Homo sapiens: one gene and its partners. The protein of the gene in region 4 purifies or fractionates together with the protein of the main gene of each other region. This does not show direct contact. Each region holds a gene or a part of one and is shown on either strand. Other genes may lie near its edges. The genes, in order: CDADC1, BLTP3B, SCML1, AMOTL1, MRPS9 and RNF146.

Region 1 (3,636 bases), on a different chromosome or scaffold from region 4:
AAGTAGCCGGGACTATAGGCACGCACCACCAGACACCACCATGCCCAGCTAATTTTTTTGTTAGAGTCGAGGTCTTGCTATGTTGCCCACGCTGGTCTTGAACTCCTGAGCTCAAGCGATCCTCCTGTCTCAGCCTTCTAAAGTGTTGCAATTACAGGCATGAACCACTGCACTGGGCCTCTCCTTTCTCTTCTTGTCCTACCTTTAGTGGAGGGCTCAAGGAACAGTGAAATCATAAAAGCAAGAAGCAGAAAGAAGGGCCTAGATTAATGAGGGCCTGATGTAGAAATGTGGTACTGAATATAAGGCTACAAGGAATCCCAAAACTGCTGGGAGAAAGAGTTGTCTACTCAAGGGTCTCACTAACTTCTCTATATTGTATGAACAGCAAAACTTAAGTAACTATGAGTAAATGAACTCTACCATAAATGAGACGAACACTTCAGAGACAAATACAACCCAACCAATCAGCCCCAATTTACGATCTATGTAACTCACCAGTTCGATATGCCAATAACCTGGCCTGAACCATGCAGTGCCTTGCAATTTCCTGTGGCAAACTTTGATTGTGAATTTCATTAATCTGTTCTGGATTGCTACGGTAAAATCCGAAGTGTTTAAAGTTCGGCACACTGGAAGCTACTGTGGCCAAAAGTAGGATAAGGTCTTTCATGTTTTGCCTTAGATTGCTAAAGTATGGATTTTCACACAGGTTCTCCAAACCTATAGTCATCAGTATTTGCTTATGCATTTCTTCATTTGAAACCAAAAATAACATTTCATATTCTTTTATTCTTTCTTGTTTACATTCATAATAAAAGTCAGTGTTAGCATCCGGCAATGTTTTTGTAATTTTTTGAATAAAGTCACATTTGTAAGAGGTCTCCTCTACAAACTGCACCATATAACACACCAAAGGTTGAAGTAAGACACACACATGGGCCCGACTGTTTGACTTCAATCTTTCCACTGCTTTGGCATCTAACTTTGCATCTTCAGAACTAGAAGCCTCCGTAAGCAAACTTATTTCTGGATCAGCAGGCCAGTATGAAATTCGGTTAACTCCAGCTGAAATACAAAATACGAAAGGTAATTATGAGATACATGCTGAATTTAGGGTTTTCATTATAAAATCCACCCTATCATTGCAGTATATCTAGAACCCTCAATATAATAAATGTCTATTACCAAGTCACCTATTATATAGCCTGAGGGTTGGCAAACTACCACCCACAGGCCAAATCCAGTCCACTGCCAGTCTTTGTACAGCTCACAGGTTAAGAATGGGTTTTACATTTTAAAATAGTTGGACAAATCAAAAGAACATTTTGTGACACATCGAACTGTCAGAAATTCAAATTTCAGTATCCATAAATAAACCTTTATTGAAACACAGACACACCCATTCACTTATATAGTCTTTGGGTGCTTTCGTGTGGCAGAGTTGAGTAGCTGTGACAGACACCACACGGCCTGCAAAGTCTAAAATATTTATTATCTGGCCTTTTCAAGAAAAAGTTACCCAGCCTCTCACAGAGCCTCTAGGAATGCATTTGTGGAGTTACTGGTGTTGTGAAGTGTGATCCCAAAGCCCAGCGCTAAAACTATATACTCGAAGAGTCCTCCATGGTGCCATGGCTGTTTTTTAAAATCTTACAGGGAACAACTAATATTGCCTAGTTTTCTATCTGGAATAAATACCTCTTCCATGCATTAAAAATGTTCCTCTCCACAGACTGAGAATTCTTCTGAGAATCCATTCTAGGAAAATATTCTAAATACAGAGAAGAAATCTCATGCATGCACATTTAGTGCAGCATTCTTTAAAATAGCAAGCAAAGACGTTAAACAAACAAAAAACCCAAACCCAAAAACCTAAATGACCAAAATAGGGGAATGGTTGAATTAATTATGGTCCTCCTCATAATAAAACAGTTATCAAATATGTCCACAAAGAATTTATAACATGAAAAAATTCTTATGTGATGTTGGGATGGTGTCTGAAGGGCAATATTAACTTTTTAAAGCTTACAAAATTAAAGACAAAACAACAAACTAAATAGATCATTTTTCAATCAGTGTGACAGAGGAAAGGTTAGTAATGTTTAATATACAGAAAATATTTCAATTCATTAGAGCACATATGAATTGACAAGAATAAGGCCTAAAGAGAGACAAAAAGATACGAACAGACAATTTGTAAAAGAGAAAACATAACAGGATAACAAATGTGAAAAAATATTTTAATTTGTATTTGAAATTGAACGATGAGATGCCTTATACATAGTTAAGTACACAAATGTTCGTCAATTAATGAACAGTTTATAACAAAGAGACCCCTTTGCTAGTACTGCATGTAATTTCAGCTAGGAGAGATTTTTTTTTTGTGATTGTACCCAGAAGCAAATAGAAAGAGAGCCCACAGAGTGTTCTACCCTTCAAAATAATTGATGAACTAAAAAGTCTCAGTTAAACAAATAAACATTCTATCCACTCCCTGGTACTCCTGACTCACTGTGGCTTATGCTGCAAAGCAATTTTGAAGGCCTCAAACCTCATATCAGAGTGTTTCCTCCGGTTGCATTTCACCTTCCCTCTGTTCGAGTTCTCATAATCCATTTCCTAACCAGCAGTGATGGTAAACCTTTCATCTAGGCATCTTAGCTGCTTCCAGTAATCCTGATTCAAGAGGGGAAAAATCCTCTTTAGACAGACATTTGTGTATTAGTGGCAAATGCTAAAGCAGAGTTTCTCAAATTTTTTGATCTCAGGATTCCTTAACACTCTTAAAAATTATTGAGGACTCCAAAAAGCTTTTATTTATGTGGAATATATCTACTGATATTTACTGTACTTGAAAATTAAAACAAAATTTAAAATATTTATTAATTCATTAAAAATAACAATAATCTGTTATACATTAATATAAATAACATTAGCTTTATGAAAAAAACTATTTTCCAAAACAAAAATTTGTAAGAATGAGATTGTTTTAAATTTTTACAAATATCTTTAATATTTGGATTAATAGTAAAAGGAAAAACAATAGTTATCAGCAATATCACTGGAAAATTAAGAAGAGTGGAAGGACAAAACTGAGCAGCAGAATTCGTATAGACATTTAAATTTAAATTCTAAAAGCCCAATTGAGATTTTCAGGGAGGGTTTGTTCTGCCCTTTGGCCTCATGAATGAGTTTCATGAAGGGTTTCATGGATGGGCTTCAGTGGCCTATAAACTCTGTAAATTCCATTCTAATTTTTGCACATTTATTGTGTTCTGGTTAATTCCAGAAGACATTTCTAACATTTTTCTTACATCATATAATCAAAGTACTTAAATAAATTGACAATTATAAAAATAGATCAGTGAAATGCACCTTATACTTTAATAAAAAATGTTTTCAGAAATAGATAAGTGAAAGCTGAGTGTTTCTTTGATAGATTCCCCTGTACTATAGGAGTGATAATTGCAGCTATTGCAATAGTAGTAATTGTTAAATGGATACTAATGAATAGCATAGCATAGTGGGTAAGAGTTTATATAGCACAGGCTCTAGAATCAGATTAAGTAGGTTCAAATACCAGTTCTGCCAGTAACTGGCTTTAGAAACTTGGGCAAGTTAAATAATGTCTCC
Region 2 (3,636 bases), on a different chromosome or scaffold from region 4:
ACATAGTAGACAATAGGCTCTATGTCTGAATTTAAACCACTAATTAGCTGTGTTACTTTGGATTCGTTATTTAACCACTCTCTGAAGATAACAGTATACTATTGACAGAATTGTGAGGTTTAAATTCATTAATATATATACAAAGCATATAGAATGGTACCAACACAAAGTAAATGCTCAATAAATGTTAGCTTCTATTATTACAGAGTTGTCACTCAAATTAAAAGAAGTAAACTATTTAAGCACCTGCAACAGTATGAATGCGTCCCTTTGAAATTCATGTGTTGGCAAAGTGATAGTACTAAGAGGTAGGGCTTTTAAAGGATGATCAGCCCATGAGAGCTTACCCCTACATGAATGGGATTAAGACCCTTAAAAAAGAGGCTTCAGGTAGCTTCTCTTGACCTCCAGAGGACTGCAAAATGCAACGCTTACAATTTGATGAGGTTTGATCTTGGACTTCCCAGCCTCCAGAACTGTGAGAAATAAATTTCTGTTCTTTATAAATTACCCAGTCTGTGGTATTCTGTGATAGAACAAAACAGACATTGCTTGGCAATAAATGGTAGCTACCACTATGGTACTTACATCAATAATACATATTATATTATTACTTATTATATACTTGTTATATTTATTATGTTACTAATTATCTAATCTAAGCTTTTCATCTAAATCAGTGGGCTTATTTCCTTTCAAACAGAAAGTAATTCAGGCCAGGCATGGTGGCTCATGCCTGTAATCCCAGCATTTTGGGACGCCGAGGTGCACGGATCATTCGAGGTCAGGAGTTTGAGACCAGCCTGGCCAACATGACGAAACCCCATCCCTAGTAAAAATACAAAAATTAGCCAGGCATGGTGGTGCATGCCTGCAATCCCAACTACTTGGGAGGCTGAGGCAGGAGAACTGCTTGAACCCGAAGGCAGAGGTTTCAGTAAGCTGAGATCACAATACTGCACTCCAGCCTGGGCGACAGAGTGAAAAAAAAAAAAGAAAGAAAGAAAAAAGAAAGTAATTCATATTTGCCTCTGGTATCCTATGTTTTTGTGTCTGCAGCAACTACTTTCTGACTATGGCCCATGCTTCTAATTCCTGTTTACAAACTCCTTAATGCCTTAATGAGGGAGATGCAACTAACACCTTCTAAGTCATTTCTAGCAGTCTTTACTGGGGCATTGGTTGTCTCTCAATAAAATGGGAAAATCATGTAGTTACACCATATACTATCATATATGTGAAAGAATCCTAATTTTGTAAATCAGTAGAATTCACCATGCAAATTAAGCCCACCTAATCAAATTTCCAAATATAGGAGTCTCTGTAATAGAGGCTGGTAGCCTTAATGTCGCCTGCTTTATGGTCTAAATGACTGCATACATATAATTGCTGGATCTCAGCCATAGAGAGGCAGGAGTATCTGGTTAAAAGAAACAATGGAACAACCATTAGAGGAAAGTTAGGTACTCTTGCATAGTCCCTGTATGTATAAATAAGTCTTTTTGGGGGGCTATAATGAACAATTAGAATATATCTAAAAATAACTAAATATTATTAATAATTAACAATTACTAAATATAAGTAGAAATATTCAGTTATTTTTAGTTATGTTCAGTAACTTTAAAAAGCATGGGTACAGTTAACAATTACTGAATATAACTAAAAGCATCCCTTTTCTCCTAAGGTGTATGTACGTAATATGAATTCTTAAGCCGTATCATAACTTTACCTTTTTCCAAAAACATATGGCTATCACTTCCATCACTTTCTAATAACTGTTCTTCCAATATCATGCTGTCAAGTGAAATGGTATCCAATGACATTTGTGAAGAGCTTCTTTTCATATTCTTATAAGAAACACAGAGAGGAGCCAGGTTGGGTGGGCAACGTTCCTTAGGCTTTCCACTGTTAACAAAATTATTAGAAAATTATTACATATAGAGAAAAGAATTCTATCTAAAAAATACTTCTAAGAGAATTAAAATATGTATATAGCATCCATAGCTGAAATTATATTTAAACGTATAAGCTCAAAGTGTTTTCATATTTTGAAACATCTACTCTTCTACATGTTAACAATGCCATATTTTGTCATGAGCTTTTCTGCCTCAAAACAAAATACACTCATAGGCACACACGCTCCACAAAATAAATTAATTTTTAAAAAGGCCAATAAAATGTTGTTACCTTAAAGATGACTGTGATTTAAGTGTTCTAACTGGGGGGGTCTCTTCTTTACTGATATCCAGGTTTTCAGAGAGTGAAGCTGCTTCTGGAAGCAAATCTTCAGCTTTAAAGATGGACTCTATGGTTTCATTTCCTTTACTAGTTAAAGTACTTGAAAGTATGTTTTGATTACCATCACTATCAAATGAAAGTATATTCGAATCTTCTCTGTAGTTTAAGATACTACTTGAATCTGTATAAAATGAATCCTTTTTGTCACTTGTTTCTGATCCAATTTCTCCTGAGCCACTTTTGTAAACAAGTCCACTACTTTCATCTTCACTTATTTTCCCTAAATGTTTATCTGATAAATAGTCCATAAAAGAAATGCCTTTTTGCAGATTTGTATCACTAGCTGATTTAAAAAGCAAAGGATCCTTTAAAGGGATATGGCTAAGGTCAACACTCATAGATCTGTTGTCTGACATATGATTAACAGTTACACTTCTAATTCTATTTATATCCCTACTAATTTGTTTTCTTTTTGAAGACAAAAAATCCCCATTTTCTGTAGGCAAATAATCAGGTACCACTGGGCTCACACTTTCAGAAACAGGAGACTTAAGAGTATTTGCTTGATCCACTGGATGGAGCAAAAGAGCCAGTTCTGCACTTCTAAGTAAAATTCCAATACAAATGGATGTCTGACTAGCAGGACTGCCAGTTACAGCTTCTACATCTTTCCTTAAGTTCTCTGAAAGCAGGATAAGTGACTCATGCAGGAAAAGTAGAAGCAGATACTGGTAGTGATTAATCTGCATACTGACATGTTTATGAACATGAACTAGGAGATGAATATCTGCCTCTGACGAGGAAGGGGAAAATCTGAAAAATGTATCTGATGAAGAAGGCTTCTGACCACCATTTGTCAAAGGCTCAGACTCTGTACTATAATACTCCTTCAAGAGCTTCTTCCGCTTCAATCGGCCAGCCAGATCACTAGATTCACTTTGTGATGTATTTAGAGATACCTGATTACAAGTCTGCGGCTCTTTTTGTGACTCTGCATATCTTGTTGGTTGACAAATCCAAATGGAAAGAGGGAATGAGTCTACAAAACTTATTGGCCGTCCTTTTCCACTTTTCATCCCTTCATAATCTATCCAAAATTGAGAAAAGTACACAGCCCAAACATCCGTGGCAGCAGAAGTTTTAAGAGTGTTTTTATTCAATTGGGGAGTAATATTTCCTTTATAAATTTCATGCATTTTGGTATCTTGTTCATGAGCATGTCTCTGGAAAATTGGATGTAGAAGATTAAAATTGTCACAAGATTTGGGGAAGCTGGTATATGTTTTACTAAAAAAATCACAATCTTTAAAGTCTTGAAACAAAGCTTCTAGGTCAGAATGTCGACAGTTTGGACAGTGCCTTGTATTTGTGGCAATCATTTCAGAACTCTGAATAGAA
Region 3 (3,636 bases), on a different chromosome or scaffold from region 4:
TAATTAGAAACATTGCATAGGACGGAGAACTTCCCTGTATGGAAACCAATCTACAGATTGTTTCTTGTCCTCTAAAAAGTAAGTTGAGAGGTACTAATGATGGCAAATAATCCATTTATATTTTACAAAATAAAACATTTCACTAATATATGGCTCATCCTACCTCTGTGGCAATACAAAATGCCATTTCAAATTTTTTTTAAAAAGATTGTGTGAATACTTCGGGTGAGAATAAAATATAAAATACTATCTATATAAAGAATAAACACATAAAATACAGTTATGCCTTTTAAAAGTTTGGACAGACGTATCTTCATAGAGAGATGCAAACAATGAAAGTGTAGTTATAGGTCCAAACTTAGCCAAAATATGACAGTTTTAATATAATAGTTTGTTTGAAAAAAAGTAGTCAGACTTCATCCAAACCACCCTTGCGGTACAATATTTCTTGCATAAAATAACCATTCTATCTATCCTATAGTTTATCTTAAAACTGTTAAGAGCACATAATAAAAGTTTATATGCTTATTTTTTACTCTAAATCTGAATAAATAAAACATATAGAGAAATAATAGCAGAAAGGAAAATAATTTATATGGCTATTCTCTTTCTGGAAACTTGTAGAATACTGCAACATCAGACAGATAAAATACTCCAGAAAGAGATATATATGGGTACACCTTTAAATTCTCTTCTGAGGAATAATTCCCATAGATTCAATCATAGGAGTTGTCAACCCTGATAATACCTCTCTTAGCTGTTTTGGTTCTCTGTATCGAGATGAACCAGAATCAAAGGGTTTTTTTTTTTTTCTGTTTCTTGCATGAAATATATTTGTAAACAATATAATAAAAGTAATTTTTAAAGACCTATAAAGAATGAATTTTCTATTGGACTATTCTAATACTATCTAGCAGTTTAAATGGTTTTTAAAGAAGTAGACTGGACTATAACATAGTTCTACAATTCTAGCTATAATATATTTTGAGAGATACTTTCTACAAAACAAAAACGACTAAAGGGCAGAAAAATGATTCCACACTAAGAAGGCATTGGTGCCTCTAGAAGTTGGCCCAATCTAAATTTGCACAAGGATTTTTTCAATTTTCAAAGCATTTTCCTTGTTTAAGTCGGTCAATGTAGTAGCATAGCTTCACAGCCGTTCCCAGCTTCACCCCCAAGTGCTTCAGCAACACGTCACTCGTGAGTAGGAGCAGAGCCTTCCCGTCAATTTCCTATGGAGAGAAGAAACTTAACGATAATTAATAATGCTTCCATATTTTCATCAGAATGGTTAGTTCTTTATGAGAACATGTAAAGCAAACTAGAGAGCAGCTCATTGCAGATGTATATTCTCTGAATATGCGTCTACTTTATGAAAACTATTAAAAATATAACTTGTACAGTGAAGCACCGTTTGGTAATGTATAAACTCATTTCAAGTTCTGAGAAAAAGGAAATTTAACATAATATCTTAAAAAATAAACTGTGTCAAACTTAATTTTAAATATATACTGTATGTTGAATAAAATACTACACATCCATGACAAAATAGTAAAGACTATGAATAGTAAAAATGAATTTCAGATGTTCATTAACTTTCTGAGAAGGGCTGGGAAGATGAGTACGTCAACATCAGTGCAAACTGTAAATGTCTATACAATGTTGTCTTTATGATGAATGCCAATTAGTTGTCTGAAACTAATTAGATGCTAAAACTAATCACCAATTTTCTTACTATATTAAAAATCAGATATGTGGCTACTAATTTTGTTAGGACACACTGTGAAAATATCTGAATAAATAAAACATAGTCACAAAGCATTCTCCTAAAATTCCTTATCTTAATTGATCAACTTATGCTGCTGAAGCATATGATTTGGTTTTATATGTTCCAGTTAAAAAATAAAATTTTATTTACTCATTTAACACTATCTGAAAAGGTCTGAAATCCCTTATAGTACAACCTTTGTTTGGCACCTTCTATACTTTTTCTACTAAGTAAAACTCAAAATTAAAGAAACTAGAACTTACAAAACTTCGGCCTAGGATATTACTTTGTAAATGGTCTGATAATAGCAAGAGGGTATTAGCATTACAAATCATCAATAATCGAGGCAAATGGAATCAGTTGTTGAATCACTGGTTATATAAAACGAAGGCCACCCTGTTATAGCTTGTGGTTACCCCCTCCTCCTCGTGGTCCTGGTGCCCAGCTGGGAGCAGATAGGGGGAGGATCTTTGTATCTGTCATTACAAAGGGGAGGTACACCTGAGTGGCCATGCTGAATCATCATGTCTTAAGAAGCTGAGGCAGTTTGTATTTTAGGCACTTCTACACCCATTTAAAGAACAGACCATTAGCCTACCATTTAAGGCTAACCTTGGGCAAAATAAGCTTTCTCATATATGGAAAAATCAGCTAATAGGGTTCTCCCACCATTCACACAGTATCCAACTGAAAGACCTGCACAGAGGTCATTCAAAGGCATTACAGCAGGAAAACAGGATCAAAAGATACATTACATGGCTTCTGAAGAGGTCGACAAGAGGGCATAATGCAAGAGGATCTGTTTGTTTTAGAAATAGGACCACTGCTTCCACCGACCAGGTTGAAGGGTGCTTAGTGATGCTTCCTTCCTCTATGTAACCGTCATTTTCAACTGGTGACCTTGTAACTTCAATGGAGAGGGGGAAAAGAAAAAAAAGACAAATCACACTCGACCTGATCATTATCCTGAAAGAAGAGATGTTAGGTAAGGAGGAATGCTCTCTTTGTTGGAACCTTCTGTGATGTTCCTAGCAAGGAGTCAAGACTCCAACTGTAAAATCTAGTGAAAGCCTATATAAAGATGATGTGGGGATGCCTACACAAGAGTGTCCCATCTGACCTCCCCTAAATAGCAAAAGCTGGTTCAGAAGTTACATTAAAGTTTCAAAGATCACAAAACAGACTAAGTAAACCAAGTCTTCTTTGGCCACAGGCAAATATGGCAAAAGATCTGTCACTTGGGTAAAATTAGGTTAATCTAACCTAACCTATGACTCTCTTCAAGTATTTCAAGGAATTTCTCTCTTAATCTATCTAGATTAGGTTAATTTTACTAGCAAAATATAATGGAAATTCTCCAAATTTACAGTTTTATAATTGCTTAAATTTGTTCCTTTTAATCAATGAATCTCAATAACAACCCCATTATCTTTAAGAACCAAATTAGTACTTTTATCAAATCTTCCCCACGTATTCAATAAGGTTATTTTTAGTATCGCTTTACTTTTTAGATTCCTGTCTCTCGTGGCTTAAGTGCTAATGTGCATTGTGAAGAAAACAAGATTATTTTCTGCTGAACTAGGTCAGAAGTAACTAACATTTTATTTAATTCCTCTTTCATGTTTAATTGCATAGTAATAGAGATTTTGGTCAAAGGTTTATATGTTTAAAAAATAACTGAGATATGAGACAGTTTAACTGCTCATACTTCAGAAAGTTTTAGCTATGCTCTACACTAAGTTGTGTTGAAATTTCTTTGTGTACTGACAAGTATCCTTTTACTCACCCACAGTGTTAGACTCCCTAAAATTAGTGTGTGATGACTAAAGTGGGTTTTGTAATTAGTTAGGAAAATTTGTTTCTCC
Region 4 (3,636 bases):
ACTTGAAACATTTATCTCAGGCTGTCCCAAAGACTTTAATTGTAATTTAGGGATACAGGATGAAGCACAGTACGAGTCTTCAAATGTTGATAATCTCCAAATTGTTAAGACAGGTCTTTTGTCATATGTCAAAAGAGTACACCTTCTCTGGCACCTTGGGAGACTGGGACTTCAGCGAGGTACAGTTAGAATGACCGTGGCCACATTCCTGGACCGAAGTCGGCTGGGGACCATATTTAGAGGGTCTAGCATTGGCGGTGGGGGCCGGGGGTAGGTAGGGGATAGGGAAGCATAAAAACTCTAAAGCCTCAAACAGGGTGAGCTTTCAGCTAAAGTCAATTTCTCTATTTTCTAAGAAAAAAGAACCAAGATGAACAGGTTCTCTGGTAGAAGATGATTTTTCTGGAAGAATGCTGAGTTATTTTCACAACTTTGATAGTAACTCACTGAGCCTATCTATCAATGGCTCAACTACTCAGCCCTATTTTCACATCTGCAAAATAAGAGGCCTAGGGCTCCCAGGGTTCCACAAGCCCTTAGGTAGTGAAGGGGGACAGGCTAGTTTTATTATGTCAAAAAGTCTGCTGGAAATTTTGTGTAGCCCATCAGAAGAGTGCATTAGCTAAATATGTTCTTTATTTTGGACTGGAATATATAAATTCTGGCTCAAAAACTCTGAATCTTTGGGATATAATGTTTCCCCCTTTCAGCTCATAATGTCATAGAGATAGACACCAAGAAATAACACAGACATCTAAATTCTTCTGTCACTAGACTCAGCCTGCATCTTAAAACCGGCAGGTGACACGCAATTTCCCCCAGAGAACTCCGGCACCAGATCCATTGCTGAGTGGAACCACGTGCTTAGGTTGGAACCTTTTCCTTCTCTCCATGGCACAGCATGGGGGAGGAGAGTTTTTGGAGACCTCATGCTCACAGCCTTTCAGAACAGGACAGAGAAGCAATCTGTTCTGGAAGGCCTGGAGTGTGAATGCAGCGGGCCCCACACGTCACACATAGTCGTCCCTTACGTGTATTCCATGTCCTGACACCTTCTGTTGGCCTGCACCACCTCCTCCTCCTCTTGCCAGATGTGGGCCTCCAGCGAGCTCTCTCCGTAGCTGCCATTCCGTGAGTGGTTGATGATCGTGGTGTCCCTGGCAACACAAGGATATGCGTTTGATCATAGGAAACCTTCTTGCTTTGTCTCAATGCAAACAGACACAGAATGGAGAGGCTGGTGTTCATGCTGGAACAGAGATCAGCTCTGCATCTCGCATTGGCTCATGAAGCCTTTCCCTCCCAATTTCCCCAGCTCAGTTATCAATCTCATCTGATGCCCATACAGAGAAAGGTGTAAATGCTTGTGGAGAGGTGATCACAGGGTGCCGTGCTAAAACTCCACAAACTCCTTCACCCACTTTTCCTCTCCTGAATTCTGTCCAATTCTCTTCCTTAACTAGATAGAATTAAGCAGCATCTAAGGAAAACAAAATAAAATTCAAAAATCAAGTCCCCTCCCCCTTCTGACTACATTATGTATGTAGCTACATGGCATGTTATGAATATGTAAAATGGGCACCTAGAGATTTAATCTACTGACTTATGGACACTATTATTATTATTATTATTATTATTATTGTATTTGTTGGTGTTTCCATGCTTGTACTTTTTCATGCTTGTCCTATACCTCACTTTTCCAATCAGAGTTTAGGTTTTATTTCTGTTTATCATCCATACAGCATAGAATGCCTACTTCAGTATTTTACAGTAAAATGGGGGCTCAGTAAATACTTAAAACTGAGACTGGTCCTCTCAGAGAGTGAGGCTCCAAGCTGAAGTCTTCCTTCATGTTGTATTCTGTCTCACTTCTTGTTTTATGGGCCCTGCCTGGGATGCAGGTCAGGACAATGTAATAGGCATGCCAGGGTCCAGGACAGAAAGAAGAAGGCAGACACTGTCCTTGACAAGTTCAGGTGAGGTGGGTGCAGTGAGGGCAAGGGCAGACACGAGAAGATCAAGAAGCAGTTTCACTGCAAGCATCTGTCTGACTATAAACAACCAGTCACAGATAACTATTCCTGCCACTGGTTTTGACAATTTAATTACTACTAACTAACAATGATTAGTAAAAATAAGATCACTGCATCATCTAAGTGATATAGCTCAAGATGAAAGGCACAATAATGGCTCTGACTACATGAGTATTTAATTAGTAAGACATGATGTAGCCAAGTATTTCACATCTTTTAACTTCATATTCCAATGTACAATCATACTGAAAAACTTTTTTTTTTTTGAGATGGAGTTTCATTCTTGTTGCCCAGACTGGAGTGCAGTGGCGTGATCTCAGCTCACTGCAACCTCCACCTCCTGAGTTCAAGCGATTCTCTTGTCTCAGCCTTCCAAGTAGCTGGGATTACAGACATGCGTCACCACATCTGGCTAATTTTGTATTTTTAGTAGAAATGGTGTTTCACCACGTTGGTCAGGCTGGTCTCAAACTCCTGACCTCAGGTGATTCACCCGCCTCAGCCTCCCAGAGTGCTGGGATTACAGACGTGAGCCACCGCGCCCCGCCTGAAAACTTTAAAGCTTTTTTTTTTTTTTTTACAGAATAGCCCAAAACAGAAAAATAGAGGCCCCTTTAATGACAGCTATCAACATTAATGAGCATTTACTTCATACAGGGACTGGGTAGGGCACGGTACACATGGTCTCTCATTTAGTTCTCACAACTTGTGCACAAGGTATTATTATCCTCAATTTCTAGATGAAGAAACCAGGGTTAGGTGACATTTCCAAGAATACTCAGTTAGTGAATAGTGAAAATGGATTCTAACTCAGGTATTTATGACTCCAAAGTCCATGCCCCTAACCATCGCTCTATACTCCTGCAAGTTTCATATGTCTTTAAGAAGAAGGTCTCAGCAAAGATGAGTAAAGATAAAAACAAACCAGAGGGCATATGTGAGAATGTGGCTCAGAAAAGTGCAAAGTGTCATTGAAAATACACTAAAGGCCAAATGATGTAGAAAGCAAACAAAATGCTTTAAACATATTTGCAAAATTATAAATTCACACTATGGTGCACAAAATCATCAATATAGAAATTAGTGGCTAGAAACATTTTCAACAAATTTACTTTTGGAGACTTTACATGGAGCTGGAAACAAATCTGAAAATTCATGTTTACATTGCCAAGTAAGGAGAGCAAACACAATTAGAGGAAAGCAACTTAGATAGTAAATATATAAAACTCTGAAAGAAATATTACATTGCTTTGAAATTTTTAAAAATTTTCAAAACCTTCTGCACACATAAAAGATAAGCTGACTCTCTAAAAATTCTGACCAACACCATCAAGATGCATAAAGATGGGAAAACCAGTTGGTTTACAGAAGTTATTTTCTTTGTTTAAAAATCATTGATTATAAATATAAAGCATGCATCTGTGGTTGAAAAGTCACAAAACTAATGGCTGGAAATAGTCATTTTTACCAATTTGACTGTGGCCATTTAGCACCTAGTCAATAAGAGCTCAAAATGTGTACCTTTCTCAAAAATGTTTCATTTTCCTTTTTTCTCTTACTGAAAAGAAAAAAGCAATTCTGAAATGACAGAGGTTTTCTTTGA
Region 5 (3,636 bases), on a different chromosome or scaffold from region 4:
AGGGACACCCCATGTTCAGAGATCAGAAGACTTAACTAACATTAAGATGGGAATACTCTCAAAATCTATCTAGAGATTCAGCACAATCCCTATCAAAATCTTAGGTGGCTCCTTGCAGGAACTGACAAGCTGATCCTAAAATTTCATATGAAAATTCGAGGAGCAAAGAACAACCAAAATAGTCTTTAAAAGCAAGAAGGAAAGAAGACTACTTACACTTCCCAATTTCAAAACTTACTATAAAGCTACAGTAATCAAGACAAAGTGGTACTGGCATAAGGATAAATGTATAGATCAATGGAATAAAATAAGGTCCAGAAATAAGCCCTCATAGTTACACTGATATTCAATATAAGTGATAAAATAATTCAATGGGAAAAAATAGTCTTTCCAACAAATGATGCCGGAACAACTGAATGTCCATATGTAAAAGAACAAAGCTACATCCCTGCCTCACATCACACACAAAAATTACGTTAAAATGGATCAAAGACCTAAATGTAAGAGCTAAAACTACAAAACTAGAAGAAGAAAATATAAGGGTGAATTTTCATGACCTTGGATTAGCAATGGTTTCTAAGGTATACACATAAGAGAAATAAAAACATATGTCTACACAAGAACTTTATAGCATGCACATTCTTAGCAGTATTATTCATCAGAACTAAAAATGGAAATCCAAATGCCCATCAACTGATGACTGAATTCTTAAAATGTGGTATATCCATACAATCGAAAACTATTCAGTAATAAAAAGGAAGTACTGACACATGCCACAATGTAGATAAACATGAAAACATTGTGCTAAGTGAAACAAGTCAGTCACTAAAGACCAAATACTGTATGACTCTACTTATATGAAAGTCCGGGGTAGGCAAACTTAGAGTCTAGAGAGTCTATGTTCTAGGTGATTTGAAAATTAGGACCTGAATTCTATTCCTGTTGCACTCTTCAATTATTACATTCCTGACAAAAGCAATAATGGTCAATAATTTTTTTTGCTAAATGCCCCAGGATAGCTAGCAAAGGAGCTTAAATTTAACAACTTTGAATCTTGTTCTAATTTTTAAAATGTAATATCTAACATCTCATGGTATTTTATACTTAACTGAAGAATAGCATCTCTTTATGGAAAATATCCCCCAATACTGTCCAGATTACCATAAAACTCAAAAAGAGGACAGCAGCTACAAAGTCCCTAATTACAAATCACCTAACATAGAAGAGCAATAAGAAATCCTTCTGGACCGGGCCGGGTGGCTAACGCCTGTAATCCCAGCAATTTGGGAGGCTGAGATGGGTGGATCGCCAGAGGTCAGGAGTTCAAGACCAGCCTGACCAACATGGTAAAACCCCATCTGTACTAAAAATACAAAAATTATCTGGGTATGGTGGTGCGTGCCTGTAAGCCCAGCTACTCAGGAGGCTGAGGCAGGAGAACTGCTTGAAGCCAGTAGGCAGAGGTTGCTGTGAGCCAAGATCGTGCCACTGCACTCTAGCCTGGGCAACAGAGCAAGACTCTGTCTCAAAAAAAAGAAAAGAAAAGAAAAGAAAAAAATCCTTCTGGTTGAATAAAAAATGTTGGTCTGAAAGTGATACTACAGTACCATTTATAAATAGGAAAAGTATACAGAAAGATTGAAATTAAACTAAAGTGCATAAAATGACTAAAAATAATATTAAAATCGTATAAGAATGTTATTATCTATACAAAGATGTTGTTCTTCGATTAAATATAAAACATCATGGGATATTAGATGTTACTTTTTAAAAATAAGGACAAGATTCAAAGTTGTTAAATTCAACTTCCTTTGCTAGCTACTCTAGGATGTCTAGCAAAAATATTATCGACAATTACTGCTTTTATCAGGAATATAATAATTCAAGAGTGAATAGAATTCTGATCCTAATTTTCAAATCACTTAGACTACGCCCCCATTTTGAAACCTCAGATATATATTTAAGTTGACAAAAACACTGGGCCAAGGTTTACTTATGGGACTTGATATAAATTTGACTCTATTTTCATTACCATCTGTTATATCATTTTGTAAGAAAGCTGAGTCTAAGACTACACAACAGGTTAAACATTTCCCAATAGTGTATGAGCATTTATAGACTCATTTCTAGGTAACACCTAAAACTCACCATACTAAGTAAATCCTGCACATTTGTCTTTGAAACCATGGCTCCAACTTAAACAATGTATAGCAGCATTTTTCCTTATTCTGACAGCTTGATTAAAACACAGAGCTAAGGGGCTCATGAAGAAAAGTGCTTTTAATATCTAAAACTCTACAGCAATTACTTTTTCAACAGAGTAACTGTACTTACGTCAATATCTTCTTGAGTGAAAGTTTCTGGATCTTCTCCCATCATGTTGGCTAAATGTCTCTTTCCTATGTTGAACTCTTCAATCTGCTTTTTAATAAAATCCTCTGTGTAAGTTTCACGTTTTGAGGTAGGAACGTTTTTCTTTGGTATTACAAATGCAGTATGTCTTAGCCTTAATATCTAACAGAAAATATAGATGGAAAGAAAAGAAAATAAATTAAACTGTGATCTTCTAGGCCATTGTCCTTAAATAAAATAGTATATGCAAGTAGTTATCTTTTTTTATTACGGTATTCAAGTGACAGGAGTCCAAAAAGCAAGTTTAAAGGACCTGCTAAGAAAGTTGTTAGAATGTGTCCCCTACTCAAAGCCTTGCTTACAATGCAGTTTAAGCTACTAGCATTTCAATACATTAAAACCAAAAATACCTGTAAGTGGTATGCTACCTCCTGATCTATTTTAAACATCCACTTTTGATAATGATTGGTCAATGTCAGTGAGTTTTGATATTTGACACATGGGATAAAGAGCAAAAGGCTACTCCCTTAAGGAGGCAAATACACACGCACCAGAAACCAGCAAGCAGAAAACACGACAGCAAACGGCATGGCCTGAGGAAGAGCACCTTACACTGTCGGTATTCACCTTATTTGTGGGTAAAAATACGTCCTATCTTTAACCATCTTTTGGCTTAGCTTAAGACTTTATTCCATGGTCCTTATATTAAAGTGATAAAAAGAAAAAATTGCTTGACTGAACATTGAGAAGATTTATTAATTTGGCTCAACATGCTAACTGCAGAAATAAGGGCTCGCATATCTTTTATTTTTCTTTTTTTTAAAATTATTATTATACTTTAAGTTTTAGGGTACATGTGCACAATGTGCAGGTTAGTTACATATGTATACATGTGCCATGCTGGTGTGCTGCACCCATTAACTCGTCATTTAGCATTAGGTATATCTCCTAACGCTATCCCTCTCCCCTCCCCCCATCCCACAACAGTCCCCAGAGTGTGATGTTCCCCTTCCTGTGTCCATGTGTTCTCATTGTTCAATTCCTACCTATGAGTGAGAACATGTGGTGTTTGGTTTTTTGTCCTTGCAATAGTTTACTGAGAATGATGATTTCCAATTTCATCCATGTCCCTGCAAAGGACATGAACTCATCATTTTTTTATGGCTGCATAGTATTCCATGGTGTATATGTGCCACATTTTCTTAATCCAGTCTATCATTGTTGGACATTTGGGTTGGTTCCAAGTCTTTGCTATTGTGAATAGTGCCGCAATAAACATACGTG
Region 6 (3,636 bases), on a different chromosome or scaffold from region 4:
GACTAAAGCATGAGTACCACCTGGGGTGAGATTCCTAGGTTTAAACCTATGTCTACTGGCCTAGAATTTCTAAGGAAAGGGGCTGAGAATATGTATTTCTAACAAGCAATTTCAGTGATTCTGATGAATAGAAGTTGGGACAAGTTTAAGAACCTGTGCAATAGGTGTTGGATGGTTCATTTTCAAGGCTATTTAAATAGGCTGATAGTCATGTCAGGAGTTAGGATGAAGAGGATGATCAGTAGTGAAAAGATGACATTAATCCCTTACAGGTGGTGAGAGAGCAGTTTTAGGGGATTATGGGGTATGTTAAAGTCAGTGTGATAGAGACTTGAAAGAAAAAGTAATGATGTTGGAGCAGTAAATTGTCTCCTCCTGTCCTATATATAGGGAGTGTATGAAAATGTGCAGTTTTCTGTTTGGCGTAGGCTGCAGCAAGGAAATGAACATAGCCTTCTTTGATGCCATTGAAGTTGTAGGCTCCTTGAAGTTGGTGAAAGGGTTGAGAGGAAAGTCAAAATAGTGGAGTCCATTTCATCTAAAGTCAGAGTAAAACAAAAAGGTTACTTAGAAACCTTGTTTAGTCAGTATATTAGGCAGTGTTCTCTAGGGGGACAGAACTAATAGAATATATATATGAGTTTATTAAGTATTAGCTTACACGATCACAAAGTCCCACAACAGGCTGTCTGCAAGGAGCAAGGAGAGCTAGTCCGAGTCCCAAAACTGAAGAACTTGGAGTCTGATGTTCGAGGGCAGGAAGCATCCAGTACAGGAGAAAGATGTAGGCTGGGAGGCTAGGCCCATCTTTCTTTTTCACATTTTTCTGCCCGCTTTATATTCACTGGCAGCTGATTAGATTGTGCCCACCAGATTAAGGGTGAGTCTGCCTTGCCCAGCCCACTGACTCAAATGTTAATCTCTTGGCAACACCCTCACAGACACACCCAGGATCAATACTTTGTATCCTTCACTCCAATCAAGTTGACACTCGGTATTAACCATCACAGTCAGTTACTTTTGAAAGTTCTCTGATTTTAAAACAAATTGTTTGTTCTGTTAAACATTTGGTAGGATAAGTCAGCTTGTATTTAGGGGCCACATAATGGCATTAAGAATATGTTTCTTTAAACACTAGAATCTTAAGATACCGTAGGGAGATAGATGCCCATAGTATGAGAGCCACATGGAAATAAAAGAAGATTGAAGTCTCCTCTATCTTGTGTTTACTGTGAGATCTATCATTTCTTTAGTTATCATGTGTTCTTGATTATTCTGTGTAATATGATGTGCGTCCTGTAGTGGACATGGTGAGGTGGAGATGGAAATACTAAATGAGAAGAAAGAAGATTAATGACTGAGATGGTACAGGTTTTTAAGAGTACAATTCCATGTAGTTAATTTCATTTACAATGTTATGCAACTATCACCATTATAGATTTTCCACAACTTTTTTTTAGCATTACAAACAGAAACTCTGTACCCATTAGGCAATAACTCTCCACTTTCCTTCCTTCACTCTCTGGTAACTTCTGATACCTTCTGCTTCTATGAATTTGCCTATTCTTGATATTTCATGTAAGTGGAATCATACTTTTCTGTATGTGGCTTATTAGTATGTTTTCAAGGTTCATCTATATTGTAGCACATATTTCTTTTTATTACTGAATAATGTACTGTTGTATTTATAGACCACATTTTGTTTATCCATTCATCTGTTGGTAGATACTTGAATTGTGTCCACCTTTTGCCTAATATTTCCGCAGTGAATATTGGCATACAAGTGTCTGAGAACCTCTTCAATTCTATTGCTATATCCCTGGGAGTGGCATTGCTGTGTTAGCTTTTTGAGGAAGCAACAAATTATTATTCACAGCAGCTACACCCTTTTACCTTCCTACCAGCAGTTTTCAAAGGTCCTATTTTTCTACATCCTCACCAACACTTATTATTTTTCCCTTTAAAAAAGTTGTAGCCTCCTTATAGATGTATCATTGTGATTTTGATTTACATTTCCCTAATTACTAATAATGTTAAGGATCTTTTTGTGTGTTTATTGGCCATTTGTGTATCTTCTTTAAGTTCTTTACTCATTTTTTGCTCACTTTTTAATTGGTTTGTCTTTGTTGTTGAGCTGCAGTTCTTTACATATTCTGGATATTAAACCTTTATCAGATACATGATTTGCCAAGATACTCTCCCATTCTGCAGTTTGTCTTTTTATTTTCTTAACAGTGTCTTTTGATGCACAAAAATTTTAAACTTATATAAAGCCCAATTTATTTCCTATGTTTCTCATGCTTTTGATGTCATATCTAGGAATCCATTGCAAATCTAAGGCCATGAAGATTTGCTCCTGTGTTTTCTATTAAGAGTTTTATGGTTTTATTTCTTATATTTAGGTTATTGATTCATTCTGAGTTAACTTTTATATATAGTATACGGTAGAGGTCCAGCTTAATTATTTTGCATGTGGAAATCCAGTTGTCCCAACAACATTAGTTAGAGGTGCCTGTTTTCCCCCATTGAGTAGACTTGACACCCTTTTGGAAAATCAGTTGGCTATTGATGTATGAGTTTATTTCTGGACTCTCAATTCTATATCATTGGTGTATTTATCTGTCCTATGCCAGCACCAAACTGTCTTGTTACCTTAGCTTTGTAGTAAGTTTTGACATTGGATTTTTCAAGATTGTTTGGGTTACTTAGGGTCCTTTGCAATTCCATATGAATTTGAGGATTGCTTTTCCATTTCTGCAAAAAAGGTTGTTGGAATTGTGATAGGAATTATGTTGAATCTGTAGATCACTTTGGGTAGTATTGTCATTTTAATATGTTAAGTCTTCCAATCCATACATCACTTGTCTATTTACTTAGCTCTTCTTTAATTTCTTTCAGTAATGCTTTATAGTTTTCTGTGTACAAGTCCTTCACCTCCTGGGTTAAGTTGATTCCTGGCTATTTTATTCCCTTAGTTACTTTATGAATGAACTGTTTTCTTGATTTCTTTTTTGGATTGTTGTCTCCTGGTGTATCAGAACACAACTGATTTTTTTGTGTGTCAAACTTGTAACCTGCAACTTTGCTGAATTTGTTTATTAGCTTTCTTGGGGATTCTATGAGATCTTCTATCTAGAGAGAATAGACATAGTTTTACTTCCTCCTTACCCGTCTGTATGCCTTTATCTCTTTTCCCTAATTTGCTCTGCTAGAACTTACAGTCATGTTGAATAGCAGTGGTAAAAGCATGCATCTTGTCTTTAATTTTTCCCACTTTTAAGATAAAGTTTTCCACTGAATTTTTTGAAAGGATTATACATAATTAACTGATTCTCTTGATCTTAATTACTCTTTTTTTCTTTTGCAGCACAAAGAATGAACCAGCAGTGGAAGAGAAAATACTGTAAGCTGGCTGACTGCTGGTGAAGAAAATGCTTTATTTTTGTGGCAGGCATCTGTGGGATCTGTAATAGAAATGTAAGTGTAGCATCATGGTTTTTTTCAGTGCTGCAGTAAATTAAATGGATTGGTTTAACGTGTGGTAAATTGAGTATCTGTCATATGTAGTTTTAATTATATTAAATGAGCATTTTCTTTTGACTTATAGGTGCTTTATTAACAATTTATTTACATTAA

What was found.
Region 1: the proteins of AMOTL1 (region 4) and CDADC1 purify together in Homo sapiens (affinity purification with mass spectrometry, with the first as the bait; one large-scale study listed by BioGRID). This does not show direct contact.
Region 2: the proteins of AMOTL1 (region 4) and BLTP3B purify together in Homo sapiens (affinity purification with mass spectrometry, with the first as the bait; one large-scale study listed by BioGRID). This does not show direct contact.
Region 3: the proteins of AMOTL1 (region 4) and SCML1 purify together in Homo sapiens (affinity purification with mass spectrometry, with the first as the bait; one large-scale study listed by BioGRID). This does not show direct contact.
Region 5: the proteins of AMOTL1 (region 4) and MRPS9 purify together in Homo sapiens (affinity purification with mass spectrometry, with the first as the bait; one large-scale study listed by BioGRID). This does not show direct contact.
Region 6: the proteins of AMOTL1 (region 4) and RNF146 purify together in Homo sapiens (affinity purification with western blotting; one study listed by BioGRID). This does not show direct contact.

What each region holds. Positions count from the first base shown.
Region 1 is NC_000013.11:49,264,922-49,268,557, reverse strand, and holds part of CDADC1 (cytidine and dCMP deaminase domain-containing protein 1), read right to left. Parts: intron 2,680-3,636; exon of another isoform or gene 2,516-2,679; intron 1,775-2,515; exon of another isoform or gene 1,715-1,774; coding exon of another isoform or gene 1,702-1,714; intron 1,069-1,701; coding exon 499-1,068; intron 1-498. UniProt on the Homo sapiens protein: Catalyzes the deamination of cytidine and deoxycytidine into uridine and deoxyuridine, respectively. May play an important role in testicular development and spermatogenesis.
Region 2 is NC_000012.12:100,055,842-100,059,477, forward strand, and holds part of BLTP3B (bridge-like lipid transfer protein family member 3B), read right to left. Parts: coding exon 2,188-3,636; intron 1,906-2,187; coding exon 1,730-1,905; intron 1,421-1,729; coding exon of another isoform or gene 1,365-1,420; exon of another isoform or gene 1,293-1,364; intron 1-1,292. UniProt on the Homo sapiens protein: Tube-forming lipid transport protein which mediates the transfer of lipids between membranes at organelle contact sites. Required for retrograde traffic of vesicle clusters in the early endocytic pathway to the Golgi complex.
Region 3 is NC_000023.11:17,750,857-17,754,492, reverse strand, and holds part of SCML1 (sex comb on midleg-like protein 1), read right to left. Parts: intron 2,679-3,636; coding exon 2,527-2,678; intron 1,236-2,526; coding exon 1,101-1,235; 3' UTR 1-1,100. UniProt on the Homo sapiens protein: Putative Polycomb group (PcG) protein. PcG proteins act by forming multiprotein complexes, which are required to maintain the transcriptionally repressive state of homeotic genes throughout development.
Region 4 is NC_000011.10:94,862,256-94,865,891, reverse strand, and holds part of AMOTL1 (angiomotin-like protein 1), read right to left. Parts: intron 1,158-3,636; coding exon 1,032-1,157; intron 1-1,031. UniProt on the Homo sapiens protein: Inhibits the Wnt/beta-catenin signaling pathway, probably by recruiting CTNNB1 to recycling endosomes and hence preventing its translocation to the nucleus.
Region 5 is NC_000002.12:105,048,049-105,051,684, reverse strand, and holds part of MRPS9 (small ribosomal subunit protein uS9m), read right to left. Parts: intron 2,515-3,636; coding exon 2,335-2,514; intron 1-2,334.
Region 6 is NC_000006.12:127,276,864-127,280,499, forward strand, and holds part of RNF146 (E3 ubiquitin-protein ligase RNF146), read left to right. Parts: intron 1-3,367; 5' UTR 3,368-3,475; coding exon 3,476-3,477; intron 3,478-3,636. UniProt on the Homo sapiens protein: E3 ubiquitin-protein ligase that specifically binds poly-ADP-ribosylated (PARsylated) proteins and mediates their ubiquitination and subsequent degradation. May regulate many important biological processes, such as cell survival and DNA damage response.